Homo sapiens: one gene and its partner. The protein of the gene in region 1 interacts with the protein of each later gene in a pairwise test. Each region holds a gene or a part of one and is shown in the gene's direction. Other genes may lie near its edges. The genes, in order: CMAS and RTN1.

Evidence for each region.
Region 2: the proteins of CMAS (region 1) and RTN1 interact in a two-hybrid assay, tested with the Homo sapiens proteins (one study listed by IntAct).

What each region holds. Positions count from the first base shown.
Region 1 is NC_000012.12:22,063,161-22,066,419, forward strand, and holds the end of CMAS (N-acylneuraminate cytidylyltransferase), read left to right. Parts: intron 1-612; exon of another isoform or gene 613-767; intron 768-1,960; coding exon 1,961-2,151; 3' UTR 2,152-2,508; downstream 2,509-3,259. UniProt on the Homo sapiens protein: Catalyzes the activation of N-acetylneuraminic acid (NeuNAc) to cytidine 5'-monophosphate N-acetylneuraminic acid (CMP-NeuNAc), a substrate required for the addition of sialic acid.
Region 2 is NC_000014.9:59,867,619-59,875,144, reverse strand, and holds the start of RTN1 (reticulon-1), read left to right. Parts: upstream 1-4,368; 5' UTR 4,369-4,514; coding exon 4,515-4,755; intron 4,756-7,526. UniProt on the Homo sapiens protein: Inhibits amyloid precursor protein processing, probably by blocking BACE1 activity.

The sequences.
Region 1 (3,259 bases):
CATTTTAAAATTGATAAGTTATTAAGATGCATAATAACTATAAATCATGTATGAAAGCAGTATTTACAAGGGTAATATGAGCCTCAAAATAAGAAGCACAGGAAAAACTTTGGGAGCATGTGATCTAGAGACTTCAGGAATAACCCTTAAACCACACATGAAGATTTAATGGACATAAATGCTGCAGAATGTTTGTTAAAGACAGATCCAATTTTTATTAGAAGAAAATTTTAGTGGAATGTATAACAAATTCCAACTATACTTATTATCTTTCTTTGGGATGTTAAGCAAGCTTCTGTATACCTTAGTTTTCTACTTAGAATATAAACACAAACCAAATTTTATAAAGCCATTAGAAAGAAAAACAAAGATAATATAAAATGCTTAACATAGTGCCTACAGATAGTAATAAGTGTATCATTTATATAGGTAAAACTCTAGAATTATATGTGTCAAAATGTAGTGATTATCTACAAATAGTGATAATTAGGATGATTGTGACTTTTTTGCTTCTATTTTTTAAAAAAATATTTCTACCACGAATACGTATTACTTATATGACATTAAAAAAAAAACACACACACACACACTTTAAAAGGAGAGGTAAGAAAATGGAGAAGAGCATTTACATTTTTATTTAAAACTCACAGCAGGCCAGGCATGATGGCTCATGCCTACAATCCCACCACTTTGGGAAGCGGAGGCAGGCAGATCCCTGGAGCTCAGGAGTTTTAGACCAGCCTGTGAAACATAGTGAGGCCCCATGTCTACAAAAAAAAAAAATAATAACTCACTCACCAATGTTTTATATGGGTGACATAAGTGTATAAAAATATATTTCTTAAAAAAATCAATACTTTTATAAGTAAAATTTAGTAAATAGAGCTTAAAGGCTGGATTATGCAAATACTAACTTTTTTTATTTTAGTGAAAACGATTCAAATTTCAACACATTTAATAATAAATGAGAAAATTTCAGTAGATAAGCATAGAACAAATGTAAAAGAAACTCTCTTCAACCAAGATTGTACTATTGTATGTGGTCTAAAGTATAGTAATAGTTTTACTCAGAATGGTGAATTAAAGATACTGGGAGCTTCTGAAATGCATCCTATTCCAAAAAAGGGGTTAACAGAGAGGGAGGAAAAGGATATCGTTATGTCAGTATGATTTAGTATCTATTTTTATTCTTTAAAAATGGTAATTTTTCAGCAACTATTAATAAATGGCATACCAATCAGAACCATTACAGATTAAAAGAGATTTAAGAGATTATATATATATAAACAAAAGACCATATGTTAACCTTATTTCATTCCTGATTCAAATAAGTCAGCTATAAAAGGACAATTTTGAGACAGCTGGGGGTATCTCAACATATACTAGGTTATTAGAGGATATTAAGGAACTATTACTGATTTTGTGGGTTTAATGATATTCTGTCAGATAAAAAATTATATTTATCAGAGATAAATATTGAAGAGTTTTTGGATAAAATATTATGTCTGGGAATTCCTTCTTCTCCCTTTCCCCAAATAAACTAGGGGGCAGTGCATAGAAAACAATATTACTAAGTGATTTTAAATTCTGATAATTTTTCAATATAAAATTGGGGTTCTCGCATATGTTTGAAATTTTGCTTAATGAAAAATTTAAATAACTTACTTAGAATTCATATATAAAATTTCTAACATTTGTAATATGCATGGCAGGTAGCAATTATGCTCCATTCTTCTTCTCTAGCTCATAAGAGTTTATTTTTGATTGCTTAGGGAAAACCCTGGACCTCAATTATACTGTAAAATATTTTTGTTCCATCTAATCTTTAGTATTCTTATATGCAGTGCCCCTAGGTCTTACTGAAGTTGCCAGAGTTACCTGTTGGTTGCTGTCTGCATTATTTAGCTAGAATATTCTTTGTCTCTTTAAATGTTTGCTCAGTATTTATTTTACTTGATAGGAAATGAAGTGTCTGATGAAGAGTGCTTGAAGAGAGTGGGCCTAAGTGGCGCTCCTGCTGATGCCTGTTCTACTGCCCAGAAGGCTGTTGGATACATTTGCAAATGTAATGGTGGCCGTGGTGCCATCCGAGAATTTGCAGAGCACATTTGCCTACTAATGGAAAAGGTTAATAATTCATGCCAAAAATAGAAATTAGCGTAATATTGAGAAAAAAATGATACAGCCTTCTTCAGCCAGTTTGCTTTTATTTTTGATTAAGTAAATTCCATGTTGTAATGTTACAGAGAGTGTGATTTGGTTTGTGATATATATATATTGTGCTCTACTTTTCTCTTTACGCAAGATAATTATTTAGAGACTGATTACAGTCTTTCTCAGATTTTTAGTAAATGCAAGTAAGAACATCATCAAAGTTCACTTTGTATTGTACCCTGTAAAACTGTGTGTTTGTGTGCTTTCAAAGATGTTGGGATTTTATTTATCTGGGGACAGTGTGTATGGTAAGACATGCCCTTCTATTAATAAAACTACATTTCTCAAACTTGATGAAAACTGCCTTGTTGCTCTAGAAGAAATTTACCATGCATTTTCTTTCTTTCCTTTAAACATTAACCAATCTTAGTGAGAAACAAGCCACTCGATGCCGGGGTAGAGCATCTGATTGTACTTCACATATGTATACGTAACAGCATATGGTCTATGTGGGGGTTGGTTCCAGGACCACCCACATATACCAAAATCTGTGCATACTCAAGTACCACAGTCAACACTGTTGAACCCACATATACAAAAAGTGGGCCCTCCATATACTGCATGATTCACATGTATTTTTGATCTGCACATGGTTAAAAAAATTCACATAAAAGTGGACCACACAATTCAAACCCATGTTGTTCAAGGATCAGCAGTATACACAAATACAAATATCCAAATAAATTTATATATTATGAAGATTATGTATTTATTTGGAGGAAGCAAATTATTTGCAGTTACCCCTGAGAGATAATGGTAATTTTGCATACAGGAATATCTTAGAGATATTACGGGTTTGGTTCCAGACCGTTGCAATAAAGCGAGTCATAGGAATTTTTTGGATGCCAGGTACATAAAATGTTATGTTTAAAGTAAACTGTAGTCTATTAAGTGTGCAGTAGCATTATGCCCAGATAAACAGTGTATATACCTTAATTTTAAAATATTGCTTAAAAATGCTAACAATTACCTGAGCCTACAGCGAGTCAATCTTTCTGCTGCTGAAGGATGTTGCCTTGAACAGTGGTGGTTGCTGAAGGTTGAG
Region 2 (7,526 bases), on another chromosome or scaffold:
GAGTTCAAGACCAGCCTGGCCAACATAGTGAAACCTCGTCTCTACTAAAAACACAAAAATTAGCCAGGCATGGTGGCAGGCACCTGTAATCCCAGCTACTCGAGAGGCAGAGGTAAGAGATTTGCTTGAGCCTGGGAGGTGGAGGTTGCAGTGAGCCAAGATCACGCCACTGCACTCCACCCTGGGTGACAGACCAAGACTCAGTCTCAAACAAACAAACAAACAAAAACAAGAAAACATTGAAACATTGGGGAAAGTCTCAAGGATATTGGTCTGGGCAAAGATTTCTAGAGTAATACCCCATAAGCACAGGCAACCAAAGCAAAAATGGACAAATGGGATCACATCAAGTTAAAAATCTTCTGCACAGCAAAAGAAACAACTAAGTGAAGAGACAACCCACAGAATAAGAGAAAAAAATTGCAAATTATCCATCTGACAAGGGATTAATAACCATAATATATAACGAGCTCAAATAGCTCTATTAAGAAAAAATATAATGATCCAATTAAAAATGGGCAAAATATCTAAATAGACATTACTCAAAAGAAGACATACAAATAAATAGCAAACAGACATATGAAAAGGTGCTCAATATCATTGATCATTAGAGAAATGCAAATCAGAACTACAATGAGATGTCATCTGACTCCAATTAAAAAAACTAGAGCTACCATATGATCCAGCAATCCCAGTTTTTTATATATTATGGTTATTAATCCCTTGTCAGATGGATAATTTGCAATTTTATTCTCTTATTCTGTGGGTTGTCTCTTCACTTAGTTGTTTCTTTTGCTGTGCAGAAGATTTTTAACTTGATGTGATCCCATTTGTCCATTTTTGCTTTGGTTGCCTGTGCTTATGGGGCATTACTCTAGAAATGCTTGCCCAAACCAATATCCTGGAGAGTTTCCCCAGTGTTTCAATGTTTTCTTGTTTTTGTTTGTTTGTTGGGTATATACCCAAAAGAAAGCAAAAGTATATTGAAGAGATATCTGCACTCCAACGTTTATCACAGCACTATATTATTCACACTAGCCAAAATTTGGAAGCAACCCATGTGTTCATCAAGAGACAAATGGATAAAGAAAATGTGGTACATATACACAATGGACTATTATTCAGTCATAAAAAAGAATGAGATCCTGTCATTTGCACAACATGGATGGAACTGGAGGACATCTGTTAAGTGATATAAGCCAAGCACAGAAAGACAAACTTCTTATGTTCTCACTTATGTGTGGTAAATTAAAATTAAAACAGTTGAATTCATGGAGATAGAGAGTAGAACGGTTTCCCAGAGGCCAAGAAGTGTAGTGCTGGGAGGCTGGCAGGGGCCTGAGGGGCATGGAGGTGGGACAGTTAATGGTAGATATAAAAATATAGTTAGATACGAGTGAATAAGATCTAGTATTCACTGGCACAATGGGGCACCTACAGTCAACAATAATTTATTTTATATTTCAAAACAACAAAAAGATTATAATCGGATTGTTTGTAACACAAAGAAAGGATAAAAGCTTGAGGTGATGGATACCTTATTTACCATGATATGATTATTATTCATTGTATGCCTGTATTAAAATATCTCATATACCCCATAAATATATACACCTACTATGTACCCACCCACAAAAATTTTAAAAAAAATCTCCAGGTTACAGTTGAGGAACCTGGGTTGTAGAGATGTTAGGTAACTTTAATATTGAGGCTGGAAAGAATTTCATCTTGGTTAAAGCTTGTTACTTGTGGCGCTCTTCCTGCATGTCCCCACACCGTGTTTCCCCATGATATATGGTTTGGACTAAGTTAAGAAGCTAGTGCTAAATAAATGCTCCTCATTTCTTCTTTTCAAATGATGAACAAAACTTCTTTTCCAAAAAACAAAAGCTGAAAACAAAACGTGACAGTTCTTTTGTCTCAACTCTTCTTGCTAAGAACCTTTTAAAAGTGACAATCCTATTTTCTCTGTGTCTGAAAAGCATTTTAGAGTAATTCGTAACTTAGAGCAACTATGTAAGCCCCAGAATCCCATTGCCGACTGTGTGTTTTGCCCATAAATCTTCAAATTAGTCAAGCTTTGTCAGTTCAGAGCGGTGCAAAATAAATAATATTAATAAACATGAATCATTTCAAGTCATAGCATAAACCTGAAAATTTCTTCCCCCAAATAGATAATTTTTATACATCCAAAGGTGGAGTCTAATAAGGAAAGTTAGTAATGAAAATTGCTAACACTGAAATCTTGTGCTCATCTCTTTTCAGCAGTGTAAAATAGAATACTTTATCAAAATGGAACTGTCAATAATGTTCAATTTCCTTTAACAACTACACTCTAAATAGATTTAACTGGCTATTTCCTTCACACATTCTCAATGAGAGTATTGATTAGTATGAAAGAAATTGACAAATAATTAGAATCATATCCCCAAACTTCCTATCTATTAATCATAAGGAAACACAGAGGCTTGCTTAGGTCTCCCAGTTTTTTAATGATGACTTTCATTCATGTTTCTCAGAGAAACAAAAGAATATACTTCATATTATTTTGTATGTAACTCCTTTGCATAGCAATTCTCAAATATTAGTATTCATCAATAACCACTTTAAGGTTATATCATTAGAATTGTCTATGTTCTTGTCTTGTTATCAGTAATAAAACCATGAGAAATTCCCATCTAGTATTTCTGATGCTTTAGGGAATACTAAGTAATAGATTTGAAAAAACTTACAAGTGCCCTCTAATTACAAGACAGGATTAAGCTCCATGGAAATACAGCAGTGGAATAAGCTTTTCAACTTAACGGTTTTTTAAATACACTCTTGTTTTCCCATGGAAAGATGTTTAAAAATCATTATGATTCATGATAACCAATTATTTTGTTGTTTTTGGATGAGATTATTTTTATAGATTTATTGAGTTATAACTGACAACACATTAAATTGTTCATATTTACAGTAAACAATAAGTTTTGACATATGTTTGCACCTGTGAAGCTATAACCACAATCTAGATAGTGAATATTTCCATCATGAGACATAATTTTGAGTATGTCAAAAATGTAAAATTTTGGTGACCATCAGATTTCCAGGGATATCTGGCTTCAGGAGGCCATATTTATTGTTTAGTGAATGATTTTTCTCTAATTTATTGTCATCTTTTGAACATTAGTGCACTAGCAGAACAAAAGATTAGGCAGACTCTGGGCTTTTTCATTTTAGCATTATTGAGGAGCACCTGAATGGTCCTGAAGTTGGCCTTTGAATATACCAATGGACAGGTATGAAATCCTCAAGATGCGCATGGTGGCCAAGAGTCCCACAGTCTCACAGTGTGTGCGGTACCGTCTGCGCCCACCTTTCCTAGAGAAGAAACAGCAGAAAAACCTATTCCTTCACCCTGTGTGTTGTGGTGAATCTTAGTTTTTAAAGGCACATTATTTTATTATATAAACAACTTGGGAACCAATAAAACACAAGACATTTGAAAAGATGGGTCTTCGTATGGGCACAACATATGATAAGGCAAGTCACTTTCCTCCTCTGAGTTTGGGTTTATTTGCTGACTATCTTCCATTTTATCACAGTGAACTGTAAAGAAAAAGATGCAAGCTTCATGGAATGTCCAAATTCTGAAATACAACGGACTGCACAGACAGCTTATGATTAGGATGGCCTTGGCTCAGTGTTTCTGAAAGCAAATGTACAGCTTTTGTCCTTGCCTATTGACACCCTGTTTGCCCTCAGGGCTGGTCAGGGTGAGATCTGTTAAGCTTTTTTTGGAGGCTGTCCTGATAACTCATTTCTTTACTCCACTATTTTCAGGCCCATTCTGGAAACGCAGGATTTAACCGCGGGGTTGCAGCTTCCCTGGTCTCCATCTGCCATCAGAACCCATCTCCACCCCTTCCCCGTTCAGACCTGTGTCCCCTCCACAACTCATACTGGTCACTCTCAGAACTGTGGCCCTGAGTTCTCTAGCTTTCCCTCTTTGCCTCGGGACCCAGGACACCAGTCGGGGCTTAACTTTCTCAGTTGGGAAGGCGACGCTGCTGGTGGCTGCTGCTACTTGCTGGTTCTTCCTTTTTTTTCCTCCCCAAACGAGAGGAAGATTCGAGTGGATTTGGCACATCCCCTAACCGGGGCCTGCCATTTGCAGGTTGGGGGCTGACGTGCCCAGGAGGACCCGGACCAAGCAGGCCATTTTCACCTGCGTAATAACAGGATTGGGAATAGCGAAGCAGCGGCGGCAGCAGCGAGTGGAGTAGGAGGAGGAGCGCAGGCAGCGGCCGCGGCGGGGCCGGAGGAAGAGGAGGGGGGAGAAGGAGGAGCTGAAGCGGGAAGAGCGGCAGGCAGCGGCTCGGCGGAGTTGCAGCAGAGGCGGCGGCGACGCTGAGACACCGCAGCTTCCCTGAGCGCCGAGTCCCTCCGGGGACAGCAGCAGGGAGCGCCCGCGCAGCCACCGAGCCTCTGCCCAGCCAAGCCGCCGTCGCCGCGCCGGGGGACCGCCAGCCATGGCCGCGCCGGGGGATCCGCAGGACGAGCTGCTGCCGCTGGCCGGCCCCGGGTCCCAGTGGCTCAGGCACCGGGGGGAGGGGGAGAACGAAGCGGTGACGCCGAAAGGGGCCACGCCGGCGCCGCAGGCTGGGGAGCCCAGCCCGGGGTTGGGCGCCAGGGCCCGGGAAGCGGCGTCGCGGGAAGCCGGCTCGGGCCCCGCCCGGCAGTCGCCCGTTGCCATGGAAACTGCATCCACAGGTAAGGCGGGCGCCGCTGCCCCTCAAATGGCGTCGGGGACCAGGGCCCCCCAGTCAGTCCCCTTCTGCGCGGCTCTCCTGGGCACCTGCCTCGCGCTTTCTGCCTTGAGCGCCGACCCCACCCCCGCGTCGCCACGGGCGACTGGGAATATTCGCGGGCTGGTAGAAAACAACAATTTTATTTTTCCCAAAGGCTCAGAAAAAGTCAAGATGCTTTTGATCCTTTTATTTCATTATCATGATTATTTCCGCTTTAAAAATTGTTCTCATAGGCAAACAGCAGCATTCTGGCTGCTGGCGAGTCTGGGTACAAGTTTCTCCCTCCTGCCAGGAGGCTCCGAGCTGTAGGGCCCGTTTGACAGGTTGTGGGGATTTTGGGGGGCGTGTTTGCGCGCAGTGTGCGCGCCGGCTACAGGAGATGCTGACAACCGAGCGGCGGGCAGGCCCGCGGCCCCTGGACCCGGCTCTGTCCAGGGCAGAGATGTGGCTGTAACTGCCCCTTACCCTTGCCCTCCACGAATCGCCACCACACCTTACTCCCCCCACATCCCTCCGCCTTTTCTCCCGCAGAAAACAAATCCCAGGGAGTTTGTCCCTAATTCGGGAGGCACAGCTTTGCAAGAGGGTTGGGTGCTGTGGCTGCCCCCGCCCAAAACCTGTATTTCGCCGCTGCCCGGATGGCCCCACCTTGCAGGGAGCATTGAAACTTCAAGTCCTAAGTGCGGCGGGCCTGGCTGTGGGTTGGAGGGCTTGGGTGGTGGTGAGTGGACGTGGTACAGTTTACCAGCAGTCTAAGCGCCCCCCCCCCCCCACCCCGGAAATTGCCCTGGGTTTGGCCATTCTTCGCCTGACGCCCTATTCAAAGTCTGAGCGCGCCAGTGTCCAGCGGGAGCCCAGGCCCCTGGCGCATCCTGGTCAAAGGATCCAGGAAGCGCGCTTTGAGGCTGCCGGCCTGGTTAACGCTGTTTCCAGGGAGAGGAAAGGGGATGCTGTGTGGTGCTCTTTCCTGAGAAAGCTTTGCTATGGTGGAGTGGGAGTTGTGTAGTTTTGGCAATGTAGAGCTAGAAGGCCTGGGGTGGGGGGTGCTCCCAGAGGAGGGGAAGGGGAGTGGGACTGGTGTGTGTGCTCTTGGTGGTTGATTTAAAGAAACCCCTTTTCGTAAGCTTCTCTTAAGGGTTATGTGGAATGTCTAAGGTAATCGTAATTAACTGCCCTGGTACAGAAGATCTGAGCTGGGGAAAAGAGGTTTGGAGAATGCGTTGAATAAAAATTGTCAATATCCTGAAAGGAAGAGAAAAAGTGGAGACCCTATATAAGAAAAAAGAAAAAGAAAGAAAGAAAAGTACTCAAAAGCCCCAACGCCAAACGCCAAAGGTTATATATTAATTATTATATCCCTAGGAGTGGGGGAGGATTTAAATCTAAGAATGGCTGCTCAGTCTCTCTTTCAACTTCTGCATCCAAGTGAAAACAAAACTCTTTATAATTGCAAAAGAAGATGGCAAATGATAATAGACAAAGGAAGGTAGTTTTTGTCTTTACCATTCTTTGTTGAGGATAGACTGCTCATAGTTCAGAATCTTTATCCACTGTAATCAAAGTAAATTGTTTCTTTATGAAACATTACCCACCTCCTATTAGTGCCACTAAGATTATGTGAACTAGAAAAAGGAAGCTAAGTGCCCCATGCTCAGTAACATATCCACAAAAGTTATTATATAGGAAATGCTTAGAATATATATTTGTGGGGTACAGTGTGATGTTTTGACATATGTCTGCATTGTCAAATGATTAGCTAACAAATCCATCATCTCATGTACTTTTTTTTTGTGGTAAAAGCGTTTAAAATTTACTCTTTTAGCAATTTCAAAATGTACAGTGCATTGTTACAGAAAGGTGGCTGTAGTAAATAACAATGCATTTTGCATTTTTAGTATTATTATTATAGAAATACCTTGCTTTATTGAATGTGTTTGGGGTTTTCTATCCTAGGCAACAAATATAGTAATAAAATCAAACATGATACTACGTTTGGATGGGAGAAGAATGAAGAAAGATGGAAGGAGCACATATTTTGCATATTTATATAGAAATTTTTTAGTTTATGATTGTGGCTAGAAGGAATTTCTGATATAGTTGTTGATTGGTTAATGTCTTAAATCTCTGTGTTTCTTATTAAGTAGACCGGATGTGCTGCTATAAGAGACTCAAACGCCAGAAATGCTGTATAAATAAATAACTAGATCTTAAAATTCCAAACAAATCTTGTCCAGCTTCCTGGTCTGTTATTTTGGCAGTTCTATTGCTATAAGCAAAGTTAGCAGGTGAGCCCTCAATTGTATCAGAGATGCCTATTAAGCACACTACTTTACACTGTATTTCTTAATTTACTTTTTTTTGGCTTATAAACAGAAATTTATTTTCTCACAGTGCTAGAAGCTGAGAAATCTAAGATCAAGGTAGATTTGGTGTCTGGTCAGGGTCTGCTTCCTGGTCCACACACAGCTGTCTTTTCACTGTGTCCCCACATGGCAGAAGAGTGCTTTATTTTTTTAAAAGAGTGGTGCTTTTTTGGGACTCAACTCAAACTAAGAAGTAACTTAGACTTTGAGTGTGATGCACTGTAAACAGATTTTGTTTCTTTTTTAGATGGAAATATAAGACAGATATTGATGTTTTAATAACTGTTTTTCTGAAAAACATCACCAATCATGCCATCTGGACAGATATTCTGTTATTTATTTTTATACATTGATGGTAATTAAAATTATC